4 separate regions of the Homo sapiens genome follow, and regions 2, 3 and 4 are each linked to region 1. The links come from fine-mapping of genetic effects on gene expression. A gene starts in region 1. Each other region holds a variant in brackets. All regions are shown on one strand. Distances are between the middles of the regions.

Region 1 (7,909 bases):
ATAGATTCTTCAGTATGACAATTGCATTTTTCAGCTCCAGAATTTCTGATTCTTTTTAACTATTTCAATCTGTCTGTTAAATGTATCTGATAGAATTCTGCATTTCTTCTCTGTGTTATCTTAAGTTTCTTTGAGTTTCCTCAACACAGGTATTCTGAATTCTCTCTCTGAAGGGTCACATATCTCCATTTCTCCAGGATTGGTCCCAGGTGTCTTATTAAGTTGATTTGGTGAGGTCCCATTCTTCTCAATGCTGTAGATGCTAGTAGATGTTCTTCAGTGTCTGAGCACTGAAGAGTTAGGTGTTTGCTCTAGTCTTCACTGTCTGGGCTTATTTGTAGCCATCCTTGTTGGAAAGGCTTTCCAGATATTTGAAAAGATGTAGGTATCATGATTTAAGCTGTCTCTACTTCAGAGAGCATCCCAAGCCCAGTAATACTGTGGTTTTTGAAGACTCATAAAGGTACCGCCTCAATAGTCTTGGAGAAGATATGGGAGAATTCTCTGGATTACCAGGCAGAGACTGTTCTGTTTTCTTCCCTTACTTTCTCAAAAAAAAAAAAAAAAAAAAAAAGCCTCTCTCTCTGTTCTGAGCCAACTAAAATTGGGGGTGGAGTGACATAAGCACTCCTGTGGCCACCGCCATTATGACTGTGCTAGATCAGGCCTGAGGTCCGCACAGCACTGCATCTTGACCAAGGCCTGCTGTAATCACTCCTTGGCTACTGCCTATGTTCACTTAAGGCTCTGGAACTCTACAATCAGAAGGTAGCAAAGCCAGCAAGGCCTGTGTGCTTCCCATCAGGGCAGTGAGATTCCTCAGGCCCTGAGATACAGATGTGCTGTCCAGAAGTCAAGGACTAGAGTCAAAAACATTAGAGGGCTACCTGGTGTTCTATTATATTGCAGTTGAGCTGAGGTTCAAACCACAAGATGAAGTTCTTCCCACTTTTGCCTTTTCTTTCCAAAGACAGAGGAGTCTCACCACATAGTCACCCCTACCCACTGGTTGCCAGACTACCAACCAGTGTTCTCTTAAGGCCTAAGGGCTCTTAAATCAGCTTGTAGTAAAGTCTACCTGGCCTGGGACTCACCTTTCCGGGCAGTGGGCTTCCTTCTGGCCCAGGGAAGGTCCAGAAATGCTGTTCAAGAGCTAAGTCCTGCAATTGGGGATGTCAAGAGCCCACTTGCTGCTCTACCATGCTGTGGCTGTGCTGGCACCTAAGGTGCAAAACAAAGTCTCTTTACTTCTCCTTCCACATTTCTGAAGCAGAAGGAATCTTGCCCCAGAGCTGCCACAGCTGGAAATGTGCTGAGTCTCACCTGAAACCTGCTATCCTCAGATGCTCACGCAAGGTCCTCAATGTACTAATAGTACATGGGTACTGCTGTAGGTTATTCAGGGCTCAGGGTATCTTCTACCAGGTGATGAATGCTGTGAGGACTGGATCCTTTTTTTCAATGCAGAGAGTTCCCTTCCAGCCCAGCAAATGTCTAGAAATGTTGTCTGGGAGCTGGGGCCTGGAACGGGGGCCTCACAACTCTATTTGGTGCCTTATCCTGTTGTGGCTGAGCTGATATCCAAGATGCAAGATGAAGTTCGCCTTACTGTTTCTTTTTCATTCCTCAAGCAGAGGGAAGGAGTCTCTTTAGCAGCTGTGAGCTATGCAGCCTGGGGTTAGGGAAGAGGTGATACCAGCTCTCCTTTGACTGACCCAGCTGGTGTCTCAGTATGTCAAGTGTCCCCCCAGTCCACAATTTCTGAGCCTAATTCAGCACTAGGACTCACTTAAGAGTTGCAGTCCTTATGGTTTACACTGCCTTTCACGTTTACTTGGAAACACAGAGAACTTTAGGCCCTCTGTGGTGAGGTTTTCAGTCACTGAAGTTTTGACTGCTGGGATTGGTGATTCCCCTCGGGTTAGGACTGGTTTAAATGCTCCCTCTGCCTCCATGGGCAGGTGTCAGCTGAGTTTGGTCTAGTTTTCCTTTGTGTCTAACATGACAGCAATGAGTTCAATGCCTCATAATTGCTGTGTTCTTTCTACCCCCGTGCCCAGAGATATACTGTGCACCACACTACTGCTACTGAGGTTGGGAGGGATGGGGATTGGTGATTCAAGACTGTTTTTTACTGTCTCTTCAGTGCCTCTTTCAGGGATATGAAGTCAAAACCAGGTACTATGAGTGCTCACTTGATTTTTGGCTCTCATGAAGGTATTTTTTTCTGTGTAGTTGTTAAGTTGGTGCCTTGTGGGGTATGGGGAAATGATTAGTGGAGCCTTCTATTCTGCCACTTGCTTTGCTTCTCCTCCCCATTATAAACTATATAAAAAAAATTTAATGGCTCAAGAAATTACTTAAGTAATACTCAGTATAGAAAAAAAATATGTGTTCTCTCAACTATCCACAGTTTGCTGTCAATTATGGAATAAAACATATGTATTGACTAGTTGAAATGGACCATTTTTTAAAAAGGATGATTAGTTTACTGTATAACTCTATAAACTTTGATATGTATTTAACAAAATAATCGTTTACAATTATGAATATGTAAAATTCTTTGATAGATTATGTGAACCACTTTTGGTTCAAAAAGTAGAGTAACTAAAACTATAAAACTCAATGCCTTACATAGCAAGAATGTGTAGATAGTATTAAATTATCACTGATAATTTTTATATGTCATCTGGAGTAGATGATTTAGGTTTGTAAGAAGATATAAACTGCCTAAGGGTAGAGAATCACTCTCTATGGAATCATAGTGTCATTAAAATAATTCGATATTTGGCCTCATGTTCCAGACATTGCCACTGGTTAGTTTTGTGACCTGGGGGAAGACATTTATTTTTTTCTCAGCAACAGCTTCCTTATTTGTGTAAAAATAACTCTTGCTTTTCTCATGCTATAAATGATTACAATTTGTGAAGTTTCTTTCACTTCCAGAAAGTGGGTGAATTTTTTTTTAATTAGAGATAGTATCTCACCCTGTTCCCCAGGCTGAAGTGCAGTGGTGAAATAGCTTACTGCGATCTCAAGTTTCTGGGCTCACGTAATCTTTCCATCTCAGTCTGCTGAGTAGTTGGGACTATAGACACATGCCACTACATCTGGCTAATTAAAAACCAAAATTTTAAAGACTGGGGTTTTATTAGGTCGCCCTGGCTTGTATCAAGTTTTTGCCCTCAAGCGACCCTCCTGCCTGAGCTTCCCAAGTAGTTGGTATTACCGATGTGAGCCACTGCACCCAGTATAAAAATTTTATAACTTATATTTTCCCATGTTTTAATCTCAATGTCTTCAAAATGTAATGTTGATCAGATTCTTTTAGATAGCTTTTTATAACATACAGATTGCCAGGCACTCTGGGAGCCTCTGATTTACCTGATCTGGAAAAGTTCTTGTATTGTTAACAAACAAGCCTAATTGATCTTGAAGGAGGTGGTGTGAGGAACACACTTTGAAAAACAATGTTTGTCTCTATTCCACTACAAAGCTAATTCCAGTCCCCCTGAAACTTTTCTCCAGTAATTGATTTTTCTTCTTAAACTTACAATGCCCCTCCCTGTTGCTCCACTTTAGACAACCAGAGGACAAGGTATATGAAACTGAGTTCTCATTATTACAGTAACTTCCTTGAGGCATTTTTGGCTTTTTCCAAGCCACAAATGGTTGAAAGTATTAAGCCAAGTATTTTGCATTGAAATCAAACTTTCCAACTCTTTGTTTGCTCTACTGACATCATTTAAATAAGGCTGCAGCTGTGCTATTTTTGCCAACAATGGAAAATTGACTTAATATTGTTCTAGAATAGCCTTTCAGCTACAAGAGGTTATATATAAATCAAAAGCTTCTTGAGTAAAACTTCTTAGAATTGTAGAAGCTGCTCAATATGGAACATATTCTCAGTCCTCCTCTGGTCTACAAAGCCTGTGATTTCTTGTCTATGGACAGAACGTCTGGTTTAATCTACAGGAACCCATAACTTCCTGAAGCTTTATGCTTAACAGTGACAACGTGAGTCAGTTGAATTTTATTGTGTTTCAGTCCGTAGAGTATTAGCTACAGAAACCTTTCCATTGCCATACTGAGAAACTGCAGCAGGCAGTGTGCCTACAGGTCTACAAAGAAACTTCAGGTAAGCAGAATTATTTAGAACAGCCTTTTTATCTTGGCAGTTCAATTAATTTGGATTCTTGTTCTAAATCATTTGTATTTGTTAATTTATTTCTTTTCCCCTGCAAACCCTTGGAAAGAGCACTCCCCAGGGTCTCAATGTTGAGAATGAATTCTTCAAAACCTTTTAGGTACCTGAAACTGGAAATACTTCAGAAAAAGCCAGTGCGTATCCTTTTGAATTTGTAAAATGTCCAAATGCTTTCCTTGAATTATAAGTTATCAATATGCTTGTACCTTTCTCTGACACCCTCTAGATCTCCATAGTAATACTGTTAGCAGAAAAAAAAAATCAATATTCTCCTTGCCTCCAATCCTGCTTCTAAAGTATTAGTGGTTTATTTGCATAGAAAAATCTTCCTTCTTCCTTCTGTGTCATGTGGCTAGAATAAAACAATGCTTTTCTGTTGCCCTCTGCCAAATTTCTCTCCATTCATTGAAACATTTGGCAACTGGTATCCTAATGTTTCTCTCCAACAAACTTCTGCTACATCCTATTCATGTCTGTGGTACCTGAAACTCCCATTCCCTTCTTGGCTCCTACTCTGTTGACTTGGAGTTGAAGCCAACAGCCCTACATCCCAAACTGATCTACCTCTGAGTGCCTCTGACATCTTAACCTCTAATAGTCTAATATCTGATCCCAATCTCCTATTTTTAAGTACATTTTTCCCTGTCTATTAACATTGCTATTCTTTGACTTCATCAAGTACTTTCTTCCATGGCTTTTTCTATATTTTCTTACTTTATTGGTCTCCAACCTACTTTACTTTTTCTCTTCTCTCTCCTGGATGCTACAGTTTGTAAGTTTCAATCTCTCATTTCTATATATTCAAATGCTTTGTACCTTATCTTTTTTGCTACACCAGCCCTGAAAAAACCAACCTTGGTTTGTTTTAATTTGTCTTCTCTGCTTCTACTCTCAGGGAGCTGAGCTCAATATATTGTTGAGTAACACTTCCAAATCATAGTGTCCATCTTTACATTATCCTAAGCATGCTTGCTAGTCCTTGCTAATTCTAGTCCACTCTTTCTCCCATTAACATCAAAAGCCATTTAAACCCTAACTGTTTCCCATAAAATCCTACTTCTTTTTCTCGACACTTTCTTGGCATACTCCCTCACCCACTTACTGCTAAAAAGTGATTTTGGAAATAGGAAAAAATTTTACCTCTTCCAGGAAACAGACATTCAAAAATAACTTGCCAACTCTCTGCTCTTTTTTTCTAACCCTGTGTACTCCCATATAAAATTAGTCCTCACTTAACATTGTCAATAGGTTCTTGGAAACTGCAATTTCAAATGAAACAACATATAACAAAATTAATTTTACCATAAGCTAATTAGTATAAAGAAGAGTTAAGTTCCTACAGCATATTTCTGGTCACAAAAACATCACCAAACTTATAAATAAAGAACCCAAACACTTCTAATATAAAACAATGAACTAAATGGAAACTGCGTATACATTTAATAAATATTAATAAAAACAAGATAATTATTTACCTAATTTTTGGTGAGTCTGTGTGATGGTGGTCACAGTAGTGGTGGGTTAAATTGAGAAATAAATGTTTGCAAAGCAAAAGTTGTAAGGAGCACCTCTTGCCTCTATGAAGTTAAAATTCAATCACAAATATGGTGGCCTCACTGAGTCCTTTGGCACAGCATTGTTTATTGTCATTCATTTGTATGATTATCATAGACTTCATGAATTTTTGTTTTATTATGAATGTTTCATTCATTCATTCATTCATTCATTCATTTTTCAACTGGCTTTTTCCAGTTCAGGGGAGCAAGTGACTGAAGCCTGTCCTGGTAGCTCAGAGCACAAGGCAGGAACCCACCCCAGACTGGACACCTTTCCATCACAGGGCGCACACACACACACACACACACACACACACACACACACACACACAGAGTCTCACTCATCCTGGGACAATTTAGACAGAGAAAATCCATGCAGACATGAGGAGAACAGGCAAACTGCACATAGACAGTAGTCCAGCCAGGAATTGATGTTTTTCTCTTCACCATTGTAATGAAAAGATATTGAACAAAATGACATTATTTGATGACCTGCTGTATACGTACATACATACACCTGCATCTGCATCCATCCTAATTTTTTTTCTGACTTTTCACTGAAAGAAGTATTCTTCCAGTCCAAAACTTAATTTCACAAGTATGCTGAGAATTATCATTGACGATTACATGAATTAATCAACATAAAGAAGCTGAAATAGGGTTGGCATTTTGTATATAAGGTCAATGAATTTCTGTCACCTTTCTATGTCCTGTTTACACATTGGCCTATTAATGACTTACATCTTACCTCTTGTAGTTAGTATAGGTATGCTTAACTCTCATCTAATAAGAGAAATGCCTTTTTTGAGCTCTTGTACCTCTCCTCTGTCCTTCGATATTCTCATGTTCTTCTTCCTTTCCTGGTCAAGCTCTTTGAAAAAGTTACCTTCACTTCCTCACGTTTCATTCCACATCTCTTACCAAGTCAGTAATCAACTCCTAACTCCAAAATGCACTGCCATCTTTAGTACTCATATCTTTTAGCTTCTCAGCAGCCTTTGACTGCTTTGGTCGCTCTTTCCTTGAAGTTGATTGCTCTCCTTTGTGGAATATGCTACCAAAGCCTGCAGAATGGGCAGAATGCTGTGCCATTTGGTTAGTGCACCCATCATCCTAGACAGTGACAGAAACACATTAGCTTTTTCTAGATCTGTGGTTTGCCTCAAAATATCTATTTTGTGTCAATAGATTTATTCAAGCAAGTTACATGTAGTCCATCTTTGAAGTTGCAGTTTTCTTCATTTATGTTTCTGTCCGGTGGAATGGTCACCTTCACTGGATTAGAGGTCTTTAAAATGTCCTTCAGAACCTTGTATATACACAAATTACCACCATGCTAAACACTTCACATACCTTTTCTGGCAATGAAATCCTCATGACAACCTACAAAGTAGATATTACTATCCCCATTTTATAGATAATGCAACTGAGGCAGAGACTCAAATAATTTGACTTACCTAAGGTGACCCAGATAGCCAGAGGAGGAGCCAGGGGTGGAGTTTTGGTTTGTTTAATTCCAAAGCCCATGTTGTTAACCACTGTGCTTCCTTTTGTATTGATTATGGCTATACACTTACATATATACATGCATACATAGATGTCATATTTACTGAGTTTTCTAGGATTGCAAAAAATATTAATGGCTTCCTTGCAAACCATCAAAATAGTGTAGAAAATTTTCTATTTGTTGGTTCTTGGAAAATATGGCCATTCTTATATATTGTCTTCAAGTATCATATGAGGTATTACATATTTATATATATTGTCAGCCGTGTATATGGCTGGAAGAAAGTTCAAAAGTTCATATTTATATCTTATTTATATACTACTTTGTTTCAGAAAGACTTTCAGGTGGGTATATGCAAATGTACATATACACAGATAACCATTCACCTATGCATCTTTATATTATTATTTTTTTAATTTTTATTTTATTTTATTTTATTTTATTTTATTTTATTTTATTTTTTGAGATAGAGTCTCACACTGTCACCCAGGCTGGAATGCAGTGGTGCGATATCAGATCACTGCAACCTCCTCTTCCTTGGTTCAAGCAATTCTCCTGCCTCAGCCTCCTGAGTAGCTGGGACTACTGACACTCACCACCACACCCAGGTAGTTTTTTGTATTTTTAGAAGAGACGGGG
Region 2 (7,909 bases), 62 kb before region 1:
TGGTTACATGACTGTAGGTGTTTGTCATAAGCCATTGAACTGTATACTCAGAAGACTGAATTTTACTATGAAATAAATAAATGTAAACGAAACAATAAAAGTTAAAGTCTTTCAAATAATCTGTAAGACAATCAATTGGGCATGGGGATTTTTGTGCTCATTTCTATCATCGTTTTTTGTAACTTCTACTGTTTCTAAATTTTTATTCCCTTGCTTTGTTGCCTCCATCATTTTTCCCTCTCATTCTATTTTCTCCACAAACAGTTTGGCAGTTTTACACTCTAGTTCTGTTCTATAAGTGGATGCCGTAGACTAGTACTACCTAATAGCATATCTGCAGTGATGGAAATGTTCTACATCTGTATTGTCTAATACCACAGCCACATGTATTTCTTAAGTATTTGATATGTGATTAGTGCAAATGAGAATTTGTATTATTCACCTTTTTCATTATTTGATTTTAGTTAAGTTTAATTTAAATAATCACATGTGATTATGGCAACTGTCTTGAACAAAATAGCCTAGGCATTTTATCATTAATATTTAACTTAACAAAGTCTAAAGTGAGTTGAAGAACTCCTCCTAAGCAATACAAAGATAAAGTCTGTAAACACGTCTCCTTTATTTACAGAAGAAAATCCAGAAACCTACACATGGAATTCAAAGAAGGAAAAGATACTGCAGCTATTTTCCAGAAAGCTATTCTACCCCTCTCCCACTTTTTAGGAGCCATAATGTATGGAAATAAATTCATGCCAGTTTAAGAATATCTGTAAGTGCCCTCTCAGTCACAGGGTTTTGTGCAGGAATGGGTGAGCTACTTAAGTTGGGACAATTAGATGGCAAGAGAAGTTTCCTTAGAAAACCAGGATAGACTCATTATTGGGAGAATAAAACATCTGATATTACTGCAGCTCTGTTTGCCACTATGCAGGAAGCCAGCCAGGGAATAATATGAAAAGCAGAACATAGAGACCGAACACACAAACAAGCCGTTGAAGAAATTGTATAAAACTGAATTAAGAGCTCTGCTGAATTCTGGAATATCCACTCATGTGAACAAATGAATCCATTTTATTGTTTCATTATTAGAAAATATTTTTACCAGCAATATGGAGAGCTCTTATTGATAGAAAGCCTTCTGAGATCTTGGCACCACACTACCTTACCAGTCTAGAAAGCATTATTTGCCTACTACATTATTGAATTCTCCTTATATACCATCAAATGCAGCTGTCTTATTCGCCAAATATATTTTCACGTGTACATGACTTTATTCAGGCCATTCCTTCATCCTTGATACACAAGTGAAATGTTATTCATTCTTTTAAAAGAATAAATTAGTTTTAGACATACAGAATGCGTAACTAATGTACATAATTAATGTATGCAACTTGATGAGTGTGGAGATACATTATCACCAGAATCTATGACATCAACCTATCTATCACCTCCAAAAGTCTCATCCATTCTGCCCTCATTTATTACTTTTGTAATAAGAACACTTAACATAAGATCTATCATTTTAGCAATAATTTAAGTATACAATATTGTTAACTATAGGCACCATGCTGTACAGATCTTGAGAACTTATTCACCTTGTATAAGGAAACTCTGTACCCCTTGACTAATACCTCTGTTTTCCTCTCTTCCCAGCCCCTGACAACCACTTCTACATCTATGAGTTTGACAATTTTAGATTTATTATTCATTAGGATCTGTCTCATATGACACTGCTTTAATTTCTTAAGTCTGAATTAAGAATTCTTCTCTCTGTACTCTAAAATCACTTGTTTATGTCTCAATTTAGTATTATCATTTTCCATATTTTGAACAAAATAGTGTGGGTCAAAAACCAGCCTCTGCAGTCTGATGGCCTGGGTTCAGATCCTTGCTCTGAAGTTCGTTATTTCTGCAACTATAAGGAAGCTGAGCTTCAGTTTCTTTTTTGGAAAATAAGGATGATAATATTACCTACTGCATAATAATATTAAGTGTTAAATGAGATAATTCAAATGATGGAACACAATTCTAGGCACACAGTGTTTCCTCAGGAAACATTAGCTAATTATTTTTGCCTGTGTGTACTTTCCATGATTTTAAGTGTCCATATTGTTTGTTACTCATCTTGTTGTCTTAAGACATGTTTATCATTGTTAACTCATACCCTATCATTTTGCTTTACACAAGCACTTATGTGTATGAGCTCCCCAAATATATTTTAAACAGCCTAAGATAAGGACTTATAACTATTATTCTTTAGGAATTTATCTCCAAGAATCTGAATTGGCACCACGGTTAGACTATCTCTCCAGTGAGGAGTTGTAAAAAAGTAGATATGCCTTTGAAACTTCAGGTCTAGCCCTCTGGTCATCCTCTGTAGCACTAAATGACTTGTTCCCTTCAGTCTTCATGGAATTCATGATGAGTTCAAAGACAATATAACTAACTTCTACTAGTGGAAAAAATGGAGAACCAAGGATTGAATTTATTCTGCCACCTTAAATGTCTAAAAAAACAAAAAAACAAGATCTATGAAATAACCACTTTCAAACACTGGACATCAGGCTGTGTGGGATCTCATCTCTGATATCTGAGAAGAAAATCATATGCGGTAACCCCTATGGCTATCTAGCTTACTGTATGGCATTTCCAAGGCATATCTCAGGGAGGGGAAACAGGCAGAACCTGGCAGTTTCCCTGAGTTGAGAAGACAAGCTGGGAGTTGTGGGAGGCCAAGATGACTGGAGCCTGTATGGCAGAGTACTAGGATGAAGAGCGCCACAGGAGCACAGAGGATCAGAGATGTGCAGTGGGCAACCCTTGAGATTTCAGCTTGGTCAATGCATGAGTATAATGAAACTGTTGAAAAGGAACAGGAAAAGAACTATCGGAAAGGAGCAGATGTAACAATTTCTGAGGCTCATACAGGACAGAAAATGGTTTCAGTTCCCCAAAATCCGACTAGAAAACTTCATAATTCATGAAGTATCAGGGAGACTACTCAGAAAGTATTGCTTCCATAGTGGGACAACATTAGCCCTTGTTCTGGTCCCACCTAACAAATAAATGCAAGCTTTGAAAGTATGAAATGGTTTCCATGTAAAATAACAACGTACTGGAACAAAGCTCAAGAATATTGATAGGAATGTAAAAATTTTTGGCACCCAAAGTTGTGAAATTAACAAAGCTTGATATCTAGTCAAAAATCAGGAAGTATTTAAAACGTGGAAAAAATATGACCCACAATGACTAGAAACATCAGTGAATAGAGACAGATCCAGAAGTGAGAGAGATGATAGAACTAGTAGTCAGGAACATTAAAAGTCATTACCTTGAATTTCTGGCCAAAATGGAGTAACAGGGACTGGATTTTCCCCTAGCCTGAAAACAAAACAAAACAAAACAAACAAAAAAGAGCGAAATACATGAAATAATGGTTTGCAAGGAACTAGACATCATGCAATTAAAGATGGTGACAACTGAGATGCGTCCTAAATTCCACTCCAGCAGACTACCGTGAGGGATTCCAGGCCAGTGTCGCAAGGAAGGGCAGCAAGACAAAGACAATTGGAAGTCCAGATTTCAGAAGACAAAGCTGAGAGACCAAGGTGACAAGAGATCACAGGCCACAAACCTGGCGGGTGACCTGCAGAGGCAGAGAGAGAGAGACAGAAAACTCAGGATATATGAAGAGGTTTCCCCTAAAGTATTCAACTGTGTACTGATCAGAGCCCCGGCTGAGAAAACTTTCCAAGGCCAGGAAAGAACCACCCTAAAACTATTATGGTGTAACTTTCCTCCAACCCTCTCCCTGTACCTCTGTTAGGGATCCCCATTTCCTCATTTCTAAATTAAGGAGTTTGGCTCAGATCAACCTTTTATTGTTCCTGTGAATTGGCTCCTCTGAGCTTTTTAAAAAAGGATTCCACATCCCACCTTCACAGACTCTGATTCAGTATGTCGGGGTGTAGCTATGGAATCTGCACTTTTACCTGCCTCATC[C/T]CACAACCCCCGCCTCAAATGAGCACCGCGTTGTTTAAACAACCGTCTATGTGGCCACAGAATGACCTCAATGCTTTCCTAAAACTCCAGAACCTATGAAGGTAACCTGTGCTTGCAGCTGTGCTTGCTTACAGAAACAAAGGCTGGATGTCAGTAACCACCGTGCTACAAGATGGGAAAGAGCTCAGCAGCGCTACCCTAACATGAATCTTTGCTAATTACCATACCTAAATCTCTGCCCCGGGGAGAAATGCACCTTGCTAGGCACATGTAGTGCTGTGGTGCAACAGAAAGAATGAGACTGCCACATTCAGGTCTTCCTGGAAAGCCCCACCTCTTTCCAGGAATCCTTGTCCTCAGTCTCCACCTAGGAGTCCTAAAAGACCTTAAAAAGCACCCCCTCACTACACCCCAGGAACTTTGAACAGGAGCTCTCCTGTTCCATTCCCTGATCAGTGAATAAAGTTTCTGCTCTGCTTAACCGAACCTGGTCTCATTCTATGGGTGCAAAGGGCACCAGGGAAGGAAAGGATCCACCAGGGTCAAACGACACTCTTGAGATTCAGGAACACCCAGACGATCTCCATGTATCTTTTCAGGAGTAACACTCTTGGCCTTTGAAGCTGAGAGGCAGGAAGGGAATTACCACAACGGGCGGGGCCCAGCTCCCCATCCAAAACCTCCTTGGTTTTGGGCTGAGATCCTTCTGTCTACTGCCCCTGCCGGCCATCCACCTAACTCCGGGTCCGACCCAGAACCAGAAAAACCACTCAAAGAACCGGCGAGCCTGACCAGACAGTGCACGTGCTAGTGCCCGCTGCTCCCGATTCGCAGGTGTTGGGAAGACTTCTCTCTTGCCTGTCTAAGCTGAACTTTTCCCGCCTGGAAGAGCAGGCTGGCGCGCGGGAGGGAGCCTGGGAATTGACACTCTCGCTGGCCAATGGACGAAGAGTCTCTGGAGGCTGTTTTCTCTCATTGGATGGAAATGATTCATCCTCTCATCCACTTTGGAAGCTAATTCGCATCACTCCAGACAGTGATTGAAGAGAGGAAAAGGGATGAGAGTGCACGCCTGGGCGCACGCGCTCGCGGGCGGGTCAGACGGCCAGGCCGAGGGGACTGCGCGCCCACCCGCCCACCCTCCCTATTTGTCCAGATGACCCATCCCGGTCCCAGCGATCCCCTCCCCCGAACCACTCGGTCCACAGCCAGTTCCCGCGTACCAGGATAAACTAAGCAGTCACTGCCCTGCTTCTTCCTGCTCATCGGCGTCCCCTGTCTCCCAGTGGAAGCCAAGGAGGGGTTGCGCGGCAGCCGGGTGGGTATGGGAGATGCCTGGCGGTTTCGCGCTTTTTCCGCCTTTTGATTGCGAGTGGGAGCAGCGCGCTGAGGAGAGCTGCAAGGGGAATAGCCCGCCAAGGTGCTTCGGTGTGTGGCCATTGCTGCCCTTCTGCCGCTGATGGGTCGGCGGCGGTGGCGGGACGTGCATCCAGGCGGGATCCAGCGGCAGCAGCAGAGAGAGCTCCACCCTGATGATGCAGAGGCCCAGCTTCCAGCTGACTGCAAGTCGCAGAGCAGGCTGCACCCGCGTCTGCGTGAGGTCTAGAGGGACTTGGCCTGCTCCGCAAATGATCCAACTTCGTGGAGGGGCTGGCGAACACAGACAATGCCAGTCTGGACGAGGAAGGGGCCAGCACTGCTTAGGCCTGTTTCCCAGGACGCGCATTACTGGGTGCGGAACTTTACCCCTCAGATGAAGAGTATTTAGGCCTGTTTCCCAGGAGGCGCATTACTGGGTGTGGAACTTTACCCTTCGGATGAAGACTCCAGAGTTGGGTATCTCCAAAGTGATAATCAAGTAAGTGCTTTGCATGGGGCTTGAGAAAACATCTTACTGTTTAAGAACAGAACGTCTTACTGTCTAAGAACATGAATAGAAGGAGATGCCTTCAGTATTGAGTGTTATTTTTGAGAAGTTGGTCAAAGAAGGGGAGAAGATGGTGGATTAATAGATGATGGTGAAAATTATTTTGTAACTCATAGAAGGACAGATGTTTATGTAAAAGTTGATAGTTTTGGTGGAATCATGAGCATGTTTCTGAACTTAATGTAAAATACACAGAGACTCCTGAAATCACTTAAATTACACGGGTCTTGTGGTGTTTGGAAAGAGCAAACTTTAGAAGTGTAATTGTAAAAATAATATCAAACAGAAACAGGGAAGAGAAAAACGTAAAGACAGCTTTCTCAAATCGCTGTTATTCTTGAATCATCTGAAAGCAGTGCACATGACTGGCACTAATATGCATCGGAGAGTAAATCATTGCACAAGGAGACTTGATCTTCTTTTCATTGTAGAATCTGGAGGAAAAAAGCTGTTAAAAGCAAGAGGTGGTAGAGAATAGTATTGTCGAAAGTTTCTGACATCACTGGAGATAGAGAATTTTCCCTGGAAAAAAGTGCTCCTTAGGGAGGAGCATCTGCACATTCCATTAGCATAAAGCACCTGGTCGGCCATATGAAGAAGTCTGGATTTTGTTATAAATATGAAATTTATTTTAAATGGAGGATTTGTAGCAAGGAGTAATATAACCTGACATATTTTTAAAAATCTCTCTGGCAGCTGCGTGGGGGACAAACTCTAGGAGGACAATAGGAGGTGTGGAAGGGAGAAGATGGCTAAGAGTATATCCCAGGATTGCAAAGATGTCGGAGCCCAGCCTCAGACGGTAATGGTGGAGGTGTTAGAAAATGCTGAATTCCACATTTATTTTGAAGGGCGAGCCCATGGAATTGGCTTGTGAATGGGGTTTTCCATAAATAAGAGAAAAAGAGAGCTCAATATGATTCTTGGGCTTTTGACTTGAGCAACTAGAAAGATAAAGTCTGCATTAAGTGATATGGGGAAGTCTGAGGAAGGAGATGCTGTGTGTGCCAGGAGTGATGAGTGTGTCAGTAATTCTACTTTTGATATATTGACTTGGAGATACTAATCCACTCCAACTGAAAAATAAGGAGAGAAGTGGACACTCAACACATGCGGGTGAATGCCCAGAGAGCCTTAAGAAGGGGCAAGAGGCTGAACTTGGGAGAGAAGAGCATAGATCAAAATAAAAGACACACAAAAGGAGAAAGAGAGGGAAACTAGGACTTATGATGGTAATGTTGGCCATTAACTGAGAATTATTTTATTTTATTTTATTTTGTTTTTTGAGACAGAGTCTTGTTTTATTGCCCAGGCTGGAGTGCAGTGTTACAATCTCAGTTCACTGTAAGCTCAACCTCCTGGGTTTAGGTGATTCTCATGCCTCAGCCTCCTGAGCAGCTGGTATTACAAGTGCCTGTCACCACGCCCGGATACTTTTTGTATTTTTAATAGAGATGGAGTTTCACCATGTTGGCAAGTCTGGGGTCGAACTCCTGACCTCAGGTGCTCTGCTTGCCTCAGCCTTCCAATGTGCTGTGGTTACAGATATGAGCCACTGCACCAGGCCTGAGAAATATAATTAAAGTACAGGGAAAATTAAAAGGGAGAAGAAAGTTCACAGAGAGAGATCATGGCAAATGATAAATACAAAATCCTGCCTTGTTTCCCAGATTCCCTGTGTCTTAGGTGCCCTGTATTTTACCTCCCCTTGAACCACTCTTGTCCCTTTGTAATGGTACTCCAAGCAGCACTGCTGTACACCAATTCCAGAGCTTCCCTGCTCCTTGAGCCTAGGAATAGCTATGCTTCTAATTCCTCTTCATTTGCTCATCATTGGAGTAACAGCTGAACCACACAATTGGAATAAGTAACCTGACGTCATTTTTAGTACCAATCTTCCATTTCTTCCTTAAGTATAAAAGTGACCCTCACAGAGAAACTAACTACCTAGAGCTATAGGTCCAGAGTAGAGCTCTA
Region 3 (7,909 bases), 36 kb after region 1:
AATCCTGGGTCTCCAAAAAAGGAAAATTATTATGAGATTATACCATGTGATGCTTTTATGATGCACTTAAATTTCTTTTTTACAAAGACATTTCTAAATTTCTAGATCACACTCTTCCTTAAAAACCCAATAGTAACCTCTGTTGCGATAACTATTTTTGTCCAAAATAAAGGTAACACAATACAAAAGTAGGCAGTTCAACATCTGAGACAAACTTTTCTGTTTACTTTCTTGGGGTTACATACAAAAAAACAGGTTTCTCCCCTAAAGGGAGTCTGGTACCTTCTTCATTTTCTTTAAGAAACCCCAGGATATTATAAACTATTTGAGGTCCCCCATGCAGCAGAGGGTGCCAGAGAAAAGAGAGACAGCCAAAGTAAGTGAAGAAAACAGAATTCAGTCAACTGAGAAGAAAAAAACTTGTACTGAAAAAAAGACAAGTTCCTAGAAGAAAAACAAAAATAAAAACTTGAAGGCCTTTTAAATACAAACATACACATATGCACACACACACACCTCTTTTTTTAGGGGAATTTAGCCACTTCAGAGGACTTATTCCCCATAAGTTGGAATTTCCTTCAGATTTGATCAAGTCAGATAGAGTCAATCAAACTTAATGGGAAAAAGACTGGAACAACGACAAGAGCAGAAACAAACAACAACAACGACAACAAAAAGTTAAGCCAAACAAATGATTGCACAACTTATATGACTACTGAGCGCTCTAATGATAAGGAGAAATTAAGACCAGCTTGTTGTTAACTTTAGCCAAGACAAAACCTCAATTTAGCTACTTACCTAAGGATGAGTCTCAGGCTGAAGACAGCTGTCTACCATCCTAGAAGCAGAAAAAAAAAACCTCATCTTCCTTGTCAGAAGTGAGCTCAAACTCCACAAAAGAGTTACCCACCTTCCATCATCATGGAAGTAGAAAAACTTGTCTTTCTTGTTGGAATCAAGTAAAACTCCAATAAAAGAGGGAGTTGTACGGCAAAATAAACTTTAGATCTAAACAAAATTTGAGGAGATTAAGGATTCTCTGAAGGGGGTTCTCTCAGACCTCAGCAAATTGTTCTGTTGGTTTGAGTCATAAAGTTAGCTCATGCTGGTATCTGGCACTGAGAGGAGATTTCTCAAAGTTCAGCGACACCTCCACTCAGAATCCCTTCATAGTTACCAAAATGTGAACCCTGAAAATTTGAGACAGGTCTCAGTTAATTTAGAAATTTTATTTTGCCAAGGATGCACATGTGTAACACAGCTTCAGAAGGACCTGACAACATGTGCCCAAAGTGGTCAGAGCATAGCTTAATTTTATACATTTTAGGGAGACATGAGACATTAATCAACATATGTAAAATAAACATTGATTATGTCTGGAAAGGTGGGACAACTCAAAGTTGGGAGAGAACTTCCAAGTCACAGGTATATGAGACAAATGGTTGCATTCTTTTGAGTTTCTGATGAGTCTCTCCAAAGGAGGCAATCAGATATGCATTTATCTCAGTGACCAGAGGGGTGGCTTTGAATAGAATGGGAGGCAGGTTTGCTCTAAGCAGTTCCCAGCTTGACTTTTCCCTTTTGCTTAATGATTTGAGGGGCCAAAGATATTTTTCTTTATTACCATGATGGGTGCTGGAATCTTGACCATCTCAGGTTACAGAAGCATAGGGTCTCCTCAGTTAAGTAATTTACTCATCCATATTTCTTCTCATTCAATAAATAAGTCCCAAATTCTGGCTAATGCCAGATACTATGATTGATCTTGGGGATGCAAAGATGAACAGAACAGTCCAACAGCTGATGATCTCATAAGGGAGACTGGTGATATAAACAGATGTAATAATTTAATATAGAATACCATTACTGGTTATATACCCAAAGGAAATGTAATTAGTATGTTAAAGAGTTATCTGTACTCCCATGATCATTACAGCATTATTCAAAATAGCAAAGATGTGGAATCAAACTAAGTACCCATCAATGGATGATGTATAAAGAAAATGTGGTATGTTTTGTACACATATAGTACACCGTGGAATACCATATAGCCTTAAAAAGAAGGAAATGCTGTCATTTGAGACAACGTGGATTAACCTGGAGGACATGAAGTTAAGTACAATAAGCCAGGCTCAGAAAGACAAATGCTTCAGGTCCTCACTTGCAGGTGAAATGTTAAAGTTATTAGATGTAGGGGGTAGAATGGTGGCTACCAGAGGCTGCAGGTAGGGACAGCAGAGTGGGGAGATATTGGTAAGAGAAGATAAAGTTTCAGTGCAGCAGAAAAAAACAAGTCATTGACATCCATTTTACATCCTAGCAACTATTGTTAATAATTTATTGTATATTTCAGAATTGCTAAGGGAGTAAATTTCAAATGTTTTTACCACAAAAATAAGTATGTATGGTGATTGATATGTTAACTAGCTTGATTAAATCCATCCACATTTTATATCCTTTCAATGCCAAAAAGACCATTATAACATATATAATGCTATATTATATTATAACATTGCATTTTATACCATAGATACACATAATTATAAACTCAATACAATTTCTTTAAAAATAAGGTACAAAACTACCGAATTGTCATAAAAAATGCACCTTTTGCATGACTCTAGGGTTCTACTAAAATCACACCAGTCCTTGACAAGACTCCTGAGTCCCTGGATGTGAGGTAGGTGAAGAGGGAGGGTTGAGGATGGATGGATGTATCTTAGACCCTTCATATGGACTGTAAAACAATTTTCTTGCAAACCTAGAACCCTAAAGCTGTCAACCTCTGTTTGCTGCCTGGGAGATATTTGAGATGTTTCCAATGGCTGCTGAAGGTATCTGCCATTTCTTCTTTGGTCTTACTTGTGAATGACTGAGAGTCAATCTTGCATTGGTGCAATTAAAACTCACCCATCAATTTCTACAAACACTTTAGGAGACCTGCTATGTGTCTCTGTGTATTTACTTCACAGAAGGTTCACAGATAATACCATCTGACTTACTTGAGAATGGAATATGATAGTGATAATTTATTTCCTTTTTTTCAAAGAGAAGGGGAAAAATTATTAAATATAGAATAAATTAATGGGCTACTAAGGGAAATTTGGCCAAGTGTTTCACAGATCATTTGGCAAAATATCAAAATGAACTTAAGAAAAAGTTTTGGTGATTAATACCCCAAAACTAAATTTCAGCAAAATTAAAAGTACAGAAACCAAATTGTGGGGCACTGGGGAGAGAGTGTGTTAGAACACTCAAGACCTTTGTCTTTTTGGCTTTGAAAGGATATAAAAAGGGCAAAAAATTAAGGAAAGACTTTTGCTGTTGTTGCCTGATATGGTTTGGATCTGTGTCCCTGCCTAAATCTCATGTCAAAATGTAATCTCCAATGTTGGAGGTGGAGCCTGGTGGGAGGTGATCAGATCATGGGAGTGGATTTCCCCATTGGTGCTGTTCTTATGATAGTGAGTGAGACCTCATGAGATCCAGTTGTTTAAAAGTGTGTGCCACATTCCCCCTTTCTGCCTTCTTCCTGCTCTGGCCATGTGAGTGGTTTGCTTTCCCTTTGACTTTCACCATGATTCTAAGTTTCATGAGGCCTCAACAGAAGCCAAGTCAATGCCGGAATCATGCTTTCTGTACAGCCTGTGGAATAGTGAGCCAATTAAATCACTTTTCCTTATAAATTACCCAGTCTCAGGTATTTCTGTGTAGAGGTGTAAGATTGGAATAATATATTGCCTGAGACAGGAATATTTGGGAGTTGAAGAAACAAAGCAAGGAGAGAGAGAGAGAGAGCTCTGAAGGTATGATTATTGTGAAAAAAGTGGAAAAAAATTTCATTTCAGAGATGAAGAAGGAGATGTCTCCTGTAGCCTAGGTGGACACAGGAGTATTGAGACAAGTTATTTAAGTCAGAGTGAGTGGGGGCTCAAGTACACTTGCAAGCTGTGTGGGCTTTGGATAGTCTTTTGTCATTTCTGTTTCTCAAGTTTTTCAAATGTGAAATGAGAATTTTACTCCTTGGGATGTAATTTGGTCTATAAGTTGCTCAGTACATTGCCAAGTACTTAACATGCACCTAGTAAATGGCAGTTATTATTAGTGTAAATATTTTAAATTTATTTAACAAATATATGTTGCACACCTACAATGCAACAGGTAGTGTTTTAGGATCTGAGACTTGGGAGTAGAAGTGTTGTCTTCTTAGACAAAGTTCATTCTCTATAATCTCTTTATGTTGATTTTGCTTGAAATCTTAGCTGTGTGGCTGAAAAAGACAAGAACAGACTTGGATGTATAGATGTAGGAGTGAGAGAGAAGCAACAATTACATCTCCTTACTCTTTGCCCATTCCATACAGGAGATGATAGACAACTTGGACCACTATACCCCATTTATGATATATTCACCAGGACATCTCAAAAACTCCAGAAAATCCTTGATTTTCTCAGGGTCATCAACTGGTACCAAGCCTTCTGTGATGGTTAACTTTATGCATCAACTTGACTGGGCTAAGGTATGCCCAGAGAGCTGGTAAAGATTATTTCTGGGTGTGTCCATAAGCATGTTTCCAGAAGAGATCAGCTTTGGAATCAGTAGACTGAATAAAGAAGAGTCATCCTCACTGATGTAGGTGGGTATCATTCAATCCATTTAGGACAGAAATGATCAAAGAGGCAGAGGCAGAGTGAATTCTCTCTACTTGAGCTGGAACATTTCTCTTCTCCTGCCCTTGGGCATTGGAACTCCTGGTTCTCAGGCCTTTGGAGTCAGACAGAGAATTACACCATTGGCTTCTCTGGTTCTCAGGCCTTCGGACTTGGGCGGAGTTACACCACTGGCTTTTCCTCCAACTTGCAAATAGCATATTATGAAACTTCTCAGTTTCCATAATACTGTGAGCCAGTTCCTATAATCTGTGTGTGTGTGTGTGTGTGT[A/G]TGTGTGTGTGTGTGTGTGTGAGAGAGAGATAGACAGAAACACAAGCACACACACAGAGATTGTGATTGGATTGCCATATAGCACATGGCAATCTACTCACAATCCACAAAAATTTGAACAAATGCTGAGACTGAGATGGAGGAGATTTTTTGTCACCCGTCTTTCCCTAGTTACCTTAAACTTGGAAATTATGTTGGGGTTTTCCAGAAAAGAGAATATATAATTCACACACACATACAAACACACACACACTGAGGAAGGTTAGGCATTAATTCAAAATCCTTCTCTGCCCCCATCCCACACACACTTTCAGCTATTTTATGGATCAAGAGTTTAATTTTAGGATATATGGAAACTTTTAAAGTTCAGCCCCTTATTTCAGATTACTGTAAGTGCTTGCCACTACCTCCTCCAACACACAGCTATTTGTTCTTTGCCTCTCTCCTTGTCTTAATACTCAACACAAAGTATGGGTATAGATGTGTGTATGTGTGTGTGTGAATTATATAATTTGTTTTCTGGAAAACCCTAATATACCTTCTAAATCCTAGGTAACTAGGAAAAGATGGATGAAAAAATCTCCTCTGTCTCAGTCTCAGCCCTTGTTCAAATTTTTGTGGATTGTGAATGGATTGCGTGTGCTCTAGACTATAAAGGCTGACATTATATGGAGGAGTTTAATGTTGAAATAAATCTGCAACAAGTGATATGACATGTATTTTAAAGTGTGTATGTTGTTAGGGCCCCTCAGAAATTATCCCAGTTGCCCATTTCCTTACTACCTCTGCTTTGCACATTGGCCAGGTGAATCCAATATCCAAATGCTCAAACAATTGAGATTATAAGCATTCCAGGAAGAATGTAAAAATGAATAGAGTCCCTGAGTTTATTGTGTCAAATAATGTCTCTTTATAACAATAGAAACCAAATGAATGAAAGAAACAAAATACGCCTTTAAGAATATTTAAAGCTGTAGAAATAGCAGCTGGTGAAAACAGCATAAGGAATGGGGGAAGGGGTACAGGTAAGTCTATTAGTAAGAAACAAACAGCTGCATTATCAATTTATTATAATAGTGTAGTGTTATTAGTTTGCATTCCTACAATATAGTGTATAGGATGATTTGGGTAGCTAGAGAAAATCTGGAGTGTGGGACACTGTGGACCATGATGGAGTGCACTTTAGATAACAAGAAGACAGGGAAAGATTTCTGAGAAAAAAAGCAGAAGAAAGGGACAGGATGGTTTTTTCAGAAATGAAAGGGAACATAACAAAGAAAAGTAAAGTATTTTGAATTTTTGACTAGTGCCAGTCCTCTCAGTTCACTGAACACCTTTCTATCTATACCTATATTCAACTTTGTCTTGAGTATTAAGACAAGGCAAGTGGCAAAGAGCAAATAGCTGTGTGTTGGAGTGGGTGGTGGCAAGCACTTACAGTAATCTGGGACAATTGGGCTGAACTTTATTATTAAACGTTTCTAGATATCCTAAAATTAAACTCTTGGTTTATAAAATAGCTGTAGGTGTGTGTGTGGGGGGGTGTGGACAGAGAAGAGTCTTGAATTAATACCTAACCTGCATTTTTTCCTCATTTTGAGACTCAGTCCAGCAGGGATTAACATCCAGGTTTTGGAATTAGACCTTGCTTTGGATTCTGGCTCTTCTGTTTTAAGTCTGAGTTAATACATCTTAGAATGGACAATAAGAGAATCTTTCTTAGAGTTACAATGATGACTAAAAGAGATAACACATACAAAGTGTTTCTCTCACAGTGCCTATAACATGGTAATGGTCAATAAATGGTACACATTATCGTTTATTGTTATTATCTGTCAGGGTTGTTAGGGGGATTGGGATCAGGTGATAAAGAGGACTTCCACTTTAAAGTTAACGCAGGTGGATATATGAGCGACCTACTTCTTATTAGATGGCAACCAAATCAACTCAGGAATTGAATCCCCCCTCCCTCGCCCCACCACAAACCAAGTTTAGAACCTATTCTGATGTATCCAGCCCAAATGATGGAAAACTGAGAGGTGAGAACAGATCTTGGGTACCTCTGTTTACTGTAAATAGCTTGCTCTGTTTAAAAGAGGTAAAACTGCATGAGGAGGGTGGATTCCTTTGGAGCGTGTTAGGAAGGAAAGAAGTCTGGGCATGGGCAGGTTTGGAATGTTATGACTATGAGTGGCCTATGAGTAACTAGTTTGAGGTATGAGTTGGAGACTACAGCTGACTTTAGATAGAGGCTCATGGAATTGAGCTATGAGAGGGAACTTTTAAGCATATATACAAGATATATGGCAGAATGAGCCAGAAGCCAAATGTTCTAACCTAATCTCTATGTCACCTAGTTATCACATGGGAAGTTTTCTTTGTCGATCAAATCTGGTCATCAAGATGTCTTTGCTGGAGGCCCCCTATGCAAGGGTGGTGAAAAGTAACTGGAAACATGATCGGAATAAATAGAGTTTGAGTTGTGTCTAGTGATGCATTCAGCACTTTTCTACAGAGCACAAAAAGATACCCTGTCTCTTGGTGTGTGATGGAACAGTCTTGAGAAGTGAGTATGGCTTACACCCATCCTAACTTCCACCTCCAGGGCTTCTCAGGGCAGGCCAAAGGGCATAAAATGAAACCTTTCACTGAGCAGGGCACTCTATTTTATGGGGATATCTGGCAGAAGAAAATGAATAAATCTTAAGGATCAGGAAATGCTTGGGTTTCCAAGTTGATCCTTGTGACTGACATCAGTGGAAATGTACCCCAATTCAGGTTGGCCCATTTGGGGACCCCCAAATTATTCTCATTCATTACAGTCAAAGAAAAGAGTATTTATCACAGGACTTCTCTCATACACACCCCTTGCTTTTGTCTGATAAATTAATGAGAAGTATTATATGCAGGTTGAAGCTTGGGAGATATTAAGACACAGCTCTGGATGTTTGAGTTGAGATGGATCTTA
Region 4 (7,909 bases), 170 kb after region 1:
TGGGTTTATCTCATTTTAGCTACAGGGAGTCCATCTCGTCTTCTGTTGGGGTATATTTTAACTTAGCTAATAAGTGTTGCTTTTTATTAAAACTCAACTACTGGGAAACTGTGACCTCAGGACACTGTGGCCAGAACACTTGTGAATGAGAGAATGACAAGTGGGAGGTCCAACCTGTTCAAGGAAGAGTTCTCAAAGTGGGCACTGCAACAAAAACCAAGTCCATTCCTTAAAGGTGACTTCCTTGTTCCACAGGCATCTCTAATTGTAATAGATTTAAATGTTAAGTCTCCACCCCAAGGTGAACGTGGGACACGTGTATCATGAATGTGTGCTTATCATGCATACATGCAACCCTCCCTTTGCAAGGATTGCAAACACACAGAGAATGATAATGAGGTTTTTGATACTGAATTACTCAAGTGGGGAGGGGAAAGTGCCTGAAAATTATAGTTTGGGGTCACTATTCCCATCTTGTGCCTACTAAGGTTTCCGGTATATAATTACTCAATATTTATTAAGTGAAGAAATGAATTAGTCAAAATGCAGTGAAAAGTAAAATTATTTTAGTTTCATGAATTTTTTAAATTTTTCTATACAATTTATATATTTTGCAGATATGACAGTTACCTAGGGAATGTGGGAACTTTCTATAATATGCATGTTATATAAAGATTTTCTGGCCAGGTGCAGTGGCTCATGGACGTAATCCCAACACTTTGGGAGGCTAAGGTGGGTGGATCACTTGAGGTCAGGAGTTTGAGACCAGCTGGCCAATGTGGTGAAACCCTGTCTCTACTAAAAAATACAAAATTTAGCTGGGCATGGTGGTGCACTCCTGTGATCCCAGGTACTCAGGAAGCTAAGGCAAGAAAATCGCTTGAACCCGGAAGGTAGAGGTTGCAGTGAGCCAAGATTGTGCCACTGCACTCCAGCCTGGGCAACAGAGCTAGACTCCATCTAAAAAAAAAAAAATCTGTAATTAAAAAGAAATTAGAAACCAAAGCTGAATGAAAATCTTGAAATTATGAAAAAGCAAAATAAAACTACAATGCAATTACCTTTTTTTTCTCTCTTTTTAGATTGGTAAAGTGTGAATACATTTGAGGGCATCTGCTATAAAGGAGAGTATGGAGAAATGGGCACTCCTCTAGGTTATTGCCAGGAATGCATGTTTGTACAGCCTTTGAGGGAAGGCAGTTTTAGAAGCCCTGTTTTCATGGGGAGAACTTTCGCTGAAGAGAAATGAAGCTTTTTAGATCAAGGACATTTCATCTGTGTCCACAGACTGCCTGGGCATTCGTTTAAATTCAAGGGCTCTCTAAAGTTGAAGAGAAGAAAAATCGTATCTTTATTTTTATTAACTTCCAACCATAATTTAGGATTTTCTTCAATTATAAATGTATGTACCAAACTACCAGAGATTTCCATTATCCCTGACTTCATCAAGATGGTAGTGAGAAAATTTCATATCTGATTATAGCTGAGAATAACTGAACTACCATTTACTCTTATAATATTGAAAGTATTTAATTTATGATTGTATAATGAACTCATTAAATATGAGACTTTGCAGCTAGATGCAGCTAGATATGATGTAATTAATTTAAGATATTCAGATAACTATATGTCAATATAATTTTGTTTCCTTCATATTCCTTGTGTTTTATTTCCCCCATTCATGACTCGTGATCCTGAGAATGGGGTAATAGGCCTCCCCAGACTGTCAAGCGGCCCACTGCACAAAAGCATTTAAAAGTTATGCTTTAGATGAAGAGGGGCTCAGTGGGCTACTGATGACCAGAGTTTAATTATACAGAGAAAGTCTAAGGAAGGAAAAATCTTAGCCATGGCGGGAGGTGAAGAGAAGAAAACCCAATGCAATCCTCCCACTAGATTTTTTTGTTTTTTAAGTAATTTGGAAGTCACAAATTTTGTTTTGAATTTAATTAGCACTGTTAGCTTAAAAATCACAAGTTTAGAAACTTAGAAAGGAGAGCTTTATTTCTTAAGGAATTTACAACCTGCAGGCAGGGAGCACAGCCTCTGGCTGAAATACCAAAAGCAAGCACTTCCAGGGAGAGAGGGATAAGACAGGAATCAATGCTGACTGGGTAGGCCGAGTATACATATTCAACAGGATACAGGGGGAGCTATAAATATTAACGAAAGTGAGTTGCATGCATACAAGGTAAGCAAACGTACATGATACATGCATCCCATGTTCACCTCGGGGTGGAGACTTAACATTTAAATCTATTACAATTAGGCCCTATTATTCAGAAGGTGAAGCAGGGACTGGAAGGTGCTAAAATGCACAGCCTCTGCAAGACCAGCCAGAACCAGCCTACGGGGTCAGTGGTGTCTTATCAGAAAAAAGCTATGGAAATCAGTCACTTGTTCAATCAAAGCTGTGGTTATGCAGGGTCAGTTTGTCGGCTTCTGGCATGAAGGAGCTACAATTGTTTCCATATTGCTTATCTTGAGGCCAGTGCTTGTTCAGCTGCTAGAGAAAAGGAAAAACCTTGTGACAGTTAGAACATAGATTTTTGTTTGTTTGGTTTTTTGTTTTTGTTTTGTTTTGTTTTGTTTTGTTTTGTTTTTAAGACGGAGTCTTACTCTGTTGCCCAGGCTGGAGTGCAGTGGCGCAATCTCGGCTCACTGCAACCTCTACGTCCCCAGTTCGAGCAATTCTCCTGCCTCAGCTTCCCAGTAGCTGGGATTACAGGCGCCCGCCACCACAACCAGCTAATTTTTGTATTTTTAGTAGAAACGGGGTTTCACTATGTTGGCCAGACTGGTGTTGAACTCCTGACCTCAGGTGATCTGCCTGCCTCGGCCTCCCAGAGTGCTGGGATTACAGGCATGAGCCACTATGCCTGGCCCATAGTTTATTCTTTAAGTGTAGGAGTGCTTGACTTCACCTTTGCCTGATATGTCCTTAGGTCCTGTTTATAATTTTGTATCTAATTGCCACAAAGAGTTTGTTTTGTCAGTCTTATGATCTCTATTTTAACATAAATGTTGATGGTTATTGTGTCTAAACCAGAAAAGGGAGCCCATAGAATGAGGTGTGCCTGACCTCTTGTCCCTGTCATGGCCAGGAACTCAAGTTTTTTTAAGGTTTCTCTGGGGTCCCCTTGCCAAGAAGGGGTCCATTCAGTTGGGTGGGGGGCTTAGCATTATATTTTTAATTCTTAGCTAATTTTTCAGCAATATGCTTATGGCTGTATTTCTCTAATTAACAAAAGAAAATAAGAGTATCTATGCACACTCCCACATGTAAAATAACAAACCCAGCAAAGTTTAGACCAATTTAATGTCAATCATTTTTTCCAATAACTGCAGTATGAGATTTTTGAACCCAGATTATTCCTGAAATTTTACTTTTACGTATCATTTTTGTCAATAATTACTTTTTGTCTTTCATTCTATTTTATCATATTTGAAACACGAAATTAAGCTTAATTCTCTATTTTATTGGTTTTAATATTTATCTCCTTAATAGTTTACCAACTCTTGATTTCTTTATTTTGATTCACTTCTCATTACACTGGAACATAACATTACTCAATTTTTCAGTTAGGGTGCA[C/T]GGGTGATACACTTCCTGAATGTATACACCTGTAGGAAAGTCTTTGTGCAGACATCACACACGAACAGCAGCTTGGCTTGTAGCAATATTTTATATTGCATCCTTTTGAGGCAGGAGAATAGGGTCTGGAGGTAGGTAACCTAAGGCCGTTTCACGCTGACTTCCTAGAGCTAAATTGAAAGGAAAATCCTACCTGTCCACACCTAAGAAACAAAAGCACCAGAGGCTACTCCCTTTGCAAACCGCCACATTTTCTGCACTGCAAATTGGAAATTGAAAGTACCTCTGACTGGTTGCAAAAAGCAGAGAGGGGAAGGGGGGTGATATTACTCCCCATATCGCTGGGGGTGTCCAACCCCCCGTGATATGGTTCGTAATATCCAGGGGGTAGAGGGAGGTGATATTACTCCCCATATCGCGGGGGATGTCCACCTGCCTGTGATATGGTTCATAATATCCAGGGGGGACAGGGGGGTGATATTACTCCCCATATCGCGAGCGGTGTCTAACCCCCTGTGATATGGTTCGTAATATCCAGTGGGGGAGAGAGGAGGGTGATACTACTCCCCATATCGTGGGGGATGTCCACCCCCCTGTGATATGATTCATAATATCCAGCAGGGGAGAGGAGGGTGACATTACTCCCCATATTGCGGGCGGTGTCCACCTCCCTGTGATATGGTTCGTAATATCCAAGGGAGATATTACTCCAAATATCACATTGGATATACACCCTGTGATAATATTTGTAATATTTAGGGAGATATTACTTCTAATATCACTGTGGGTGTACACCTTGTGTGTACACACTGTGATATTGTTTGTAATGTACTAGGAAGATATTACTCTTAATATCACTGTGGGTGTACACCCTGTGATATTAGAAGTAATAGTCTAGAGAGATATTACTCCTAATGTCACAGTAAGTGTACACTTTGTGATATTATTCATAATTCCCTAGGGGAATGTTACAGCTAATGTCACAGTGGGTGTACATACTGTGATATTATTTGCAATATCCTAGGGAATGTTACTTCTAATGTCACAGGGGGTGGTCACCCTGTGATATTAGTCGTAATATCCTAGGTGTATGTTACTCCTATCGCAGGGGGTGTACAATCTGTGATATTTGTCATAATATTTTAGGAGGATGTTACTCCTACTGTCACAGGTGGTGTACACCTGTGATCTTTTTTGTAATATGCTGGGGGAATGTTAATCCTAATGTCACTGGGAGTGCACACCTGTGATATTATTCGTAATATCCTAAGGGGATGTTACTCCTAATGTCAAAATGGGTGTACACTCTGTGATATTATTCGTAATATCCTAAAGAGATGTTACTCCTGATTTTACAAGGGGTGTGCACCCTGTGATATTATTCTTAATATCCTAGGGAGATTTTACTCATAATGTCACATGGGGAGTACACCCTGTGATATTATTCATAATATCCTAGGGGGATGTTACTTTTAATGTCACGGTTGGTGTACACCCTGTGATATTATTCATAATATCTTAGGGGGATGTTACTCCTAATGTCACAGTGAATGTACACCCTCTGTAATATTATTCGTAATATCCTGGAAAGATAGTACTCCTAATTTCACAGAGGGTGTACACCCTGTGATATTATTCATAGTATTCTAGGGAGATAATACTTTTAATGTCACAATAGGTGTACACCCTGTGATATTTTTTGTAATATCCCAGGGGGACGTTACTGCTAATATCACAGTGGGTGTACACTCTGTGATATTATTTGTAATATCCTAGGGAGATATGACTCCTAATATTACTGTGGGTTTATGCCCAGTTATATTATTCATAATATACTAGGAAGATGTTACTCCTAATATCACAGTGGGTGTACACCATGAGGGTACACTTTGTGGTATTATTCATGATATCCTAGGTAAATATTTTTTATACTATCACACTGGATGTACACACTGATAATATTCATAATATCCTAGGGAGCTATTACTTCTAATTTTACAGTGTGTGTACAAACACTGTGATATTTTTTGTAATATCTTAGGGAGATATTAATTTCAATATTATAGTAAGTGTACGCCCTGTGATATTATTTGTAATATCTTTGGGAGATAATACTTTTAATGTCATAGTGGGTGTGCACCCTGTGATATTATTCATAATATCCTAGAGCAATGTTACACCTAATGTCCCAGTGGGAGTACACAATGTGACATTATTTGTAATATCCTAGCCTGATGTTACTTTTAATGTCACAGGCTGTGTTCACCCTGTGATATTATTATTATTTTTTTTTAATTTTTGAGACAGTCTTGCTCTGTCGCCCAGGCTGGCGTGATCTCGGCTCACTGCAAGCTCAGCCTCCCGGGTTCACGCCATTCTCCTGCCTCAGCCTCCCGAGTAGCTAGGACTACAGGTGCCCACCACCACGCCCGCCTAATTTTTTGTATTTTAGTAGAGATGGGGTTTCACTGTGTTAGCCAGGATGGTCTCGATATCCTGACCTCGTGATCCACCCGCCTCGGCCTCCCAAAGTGCTGGGATTACAGGCGTGACCCACCGCACCTGGCCCAATATTATTCTTAATATTCTAAGGATATGTTACTCCTAATGTCACAGTGGGTGTACCCCCTGAGATATTATTTGTAATATCCTAGGGAAATATAACTCCTAATATCACAGTGGGTGTACAACATGTGTATACTCCCTTGATAATATTTGTAATATCCAGGGTAAATATTGTCTCTAGTATCACAGAGGGTGTACACCCTGTGATATTTTTTATAATATTTTAGAGAGGTATTGAGACTAATATCACAGTGGGAGTACACCATAGGTGTACACTTTGTGATATTCTTCCTTATATCTTAGGGAGATATTACTCCTAATATCACAGTGGGGGTATATCCTGTGATATTATAAGTAATGTCCTAGGAAGGTATTACTCCTAATATCCCAGTGGGTGTACATCCTTTGATATTATTCCTAATATCCTAGGGGGATGTTAATCCTAATGTCACAGGGGGTGTACACCCTGTTACATTATTCATAATATTCTAGGGGGATGTCACTTTTAAAGTCACACGGGGTGTGATACATCCCCCTAGGATATTACAAATAATATCACAGTGGGGGTGTACCCTGTGATATTATTCGTAATATCCTAGGGAGATGTTACTCCTAATGTCACAGAGGTGTTCTCCCTGTAATTTTTTTGTAATATACTAGGAAGATGTTACTCCTAATGTCAAAGGGGGTGTGCACAATATACTAGTGGGCTATTACTACTAATGTCACAATGCGTGTACACCTTGTGATATTATTCGTAATATCCTAAGGGGATGTTGCTCCTATTGTCACAGGGGGTTTACTCTCTGTGATATGATTCACAATATCCTAGGGGTATGCTACTCCTACCTCACAAAGTGTGTACACTTTGTTATATTATTCACAATATCCTAGAAAGATGTTACTCCTCGTGTCACAGGGGGTGTACACCCTGTGATATTATTTGTAATATTCTAGGAAGATGTTACTCCTAACGTCACAGAGAGTGTACACCCTGTGAATTTATTCATCATAGCTTTGGGGGATGTTACTCCTAATGTCACACATGTTGTACAAACAGTGATATTATTCATCATATTTTATGGAACTGTTACTCCTAATACCACAGGGGCTGTACACCCTGTAATATTATTTGTAATATCCTAAAGAAATGTTACCACTGATATCACAGGGGGTGTACACCATGTGATATTATTTCCAATATTGTAGAGGGATGTTACTCCTAGTGTCACTCTGTGATATTGTAGCTTATATCTTAAGGAGATATTACTCCTAATATCACAGTGTTTGTACCCCCTGTGATATTATTCATAATATCCTAGAAATATGATACTCTTAATATTACAGAGGATGTATACCCAGTGATATTATTAGTAATACCCTAGGGGGATGTTACTCCTACTGTCACAGGGGTGTACACCCTGTGATATTGTACATGTCACACATGTTGTACAAACAGTGATATTATTCATAATATTTTATGGAAATGCTACTCCTAATATCCTAAAGAAATGTTATCACTAATGTCACAGGGGTTGTACAACCTGTGATATTATTCCCAATATTGTTACTCCTAATGTCACAGGTATACACACTGTGATAATATTGGTAATATCCTAAATGGATGTTACTTCTAATGTCACAGTGTGTGTACATCCTCTGATATTATTCGTCATATCCTGGGGGAATGTTACTCCTAATGTCACACAGGGTGTTCTCCCTTGATATTATTCATAATATTTTAGGCAGATG

The links. PIP is the estimated chance that this variant, and not a neighbour inherited with it, causes the effect. A credible set is the group of variants that fine-mapping cannot tell apart.
Region 2: its variant is the best candidate, but not a certain one, in a credible set for the expression of GLYATL2 in prefrontal cortex (BrainSeq, PIP 0.85).
Region 3: its variant is the best candidate, but not a certain one, in a credible set for the expression of GLYATL2 in whole blood (INTERVAL, PIP 0.52).
Region 4: its variant is the best candidate, but not a certain one, in a credible set for the expression of GLYATL2 in whole blood (TOPMed, PIP 0.89).

What each region holds. Positions count from the first base shown.
Region 1 is chr11:58,840,663-58,848,571 of GRCh38, reverse strand. GLYATL2 (glycine-N-acyltransferase like 2) reads left to right here and starts at 3,868. Exons shown (of 6, transcript NM_145016.4): 1 at 3,868-4,138.
Region 2 is chr11:58,902,981-58,910,889 of GRCh38, reverse strand. It overlaps a transcript of GLYATL2 not described here and a transcript of GLYATL1 not described here. Among named protein-coding and RNA genes, the nearest start is that of GLYATL1, 33 kb to the left of the region's middle. RefSeq lists an enhancer at 5,007-5,506. The variant C/T (reference allele first, on the strand shown) is at 4,006.
Region 3 is chr11:58,804,476-58,812,384 of GRCh38, reverse strand. No RefSeq gene overlaps it. Among named protein-coding and RNA genes, the nearest start is that of GLYATL2, 36 kb to the left of the region's middle. The variant A/G (reference allele first, on the strand shown) is at 4,942.
Region 4 is chr11:58,666,673-58,674,581 of GRCh38, reverse strand. No RefSeq gene overlaps it. Among named protein-coding and RNA genes, the nearest start is that of CNTF, 48 kb to the right of the region's middle. The variant C/T (reference allele first, on the strand shown) is at 3,593.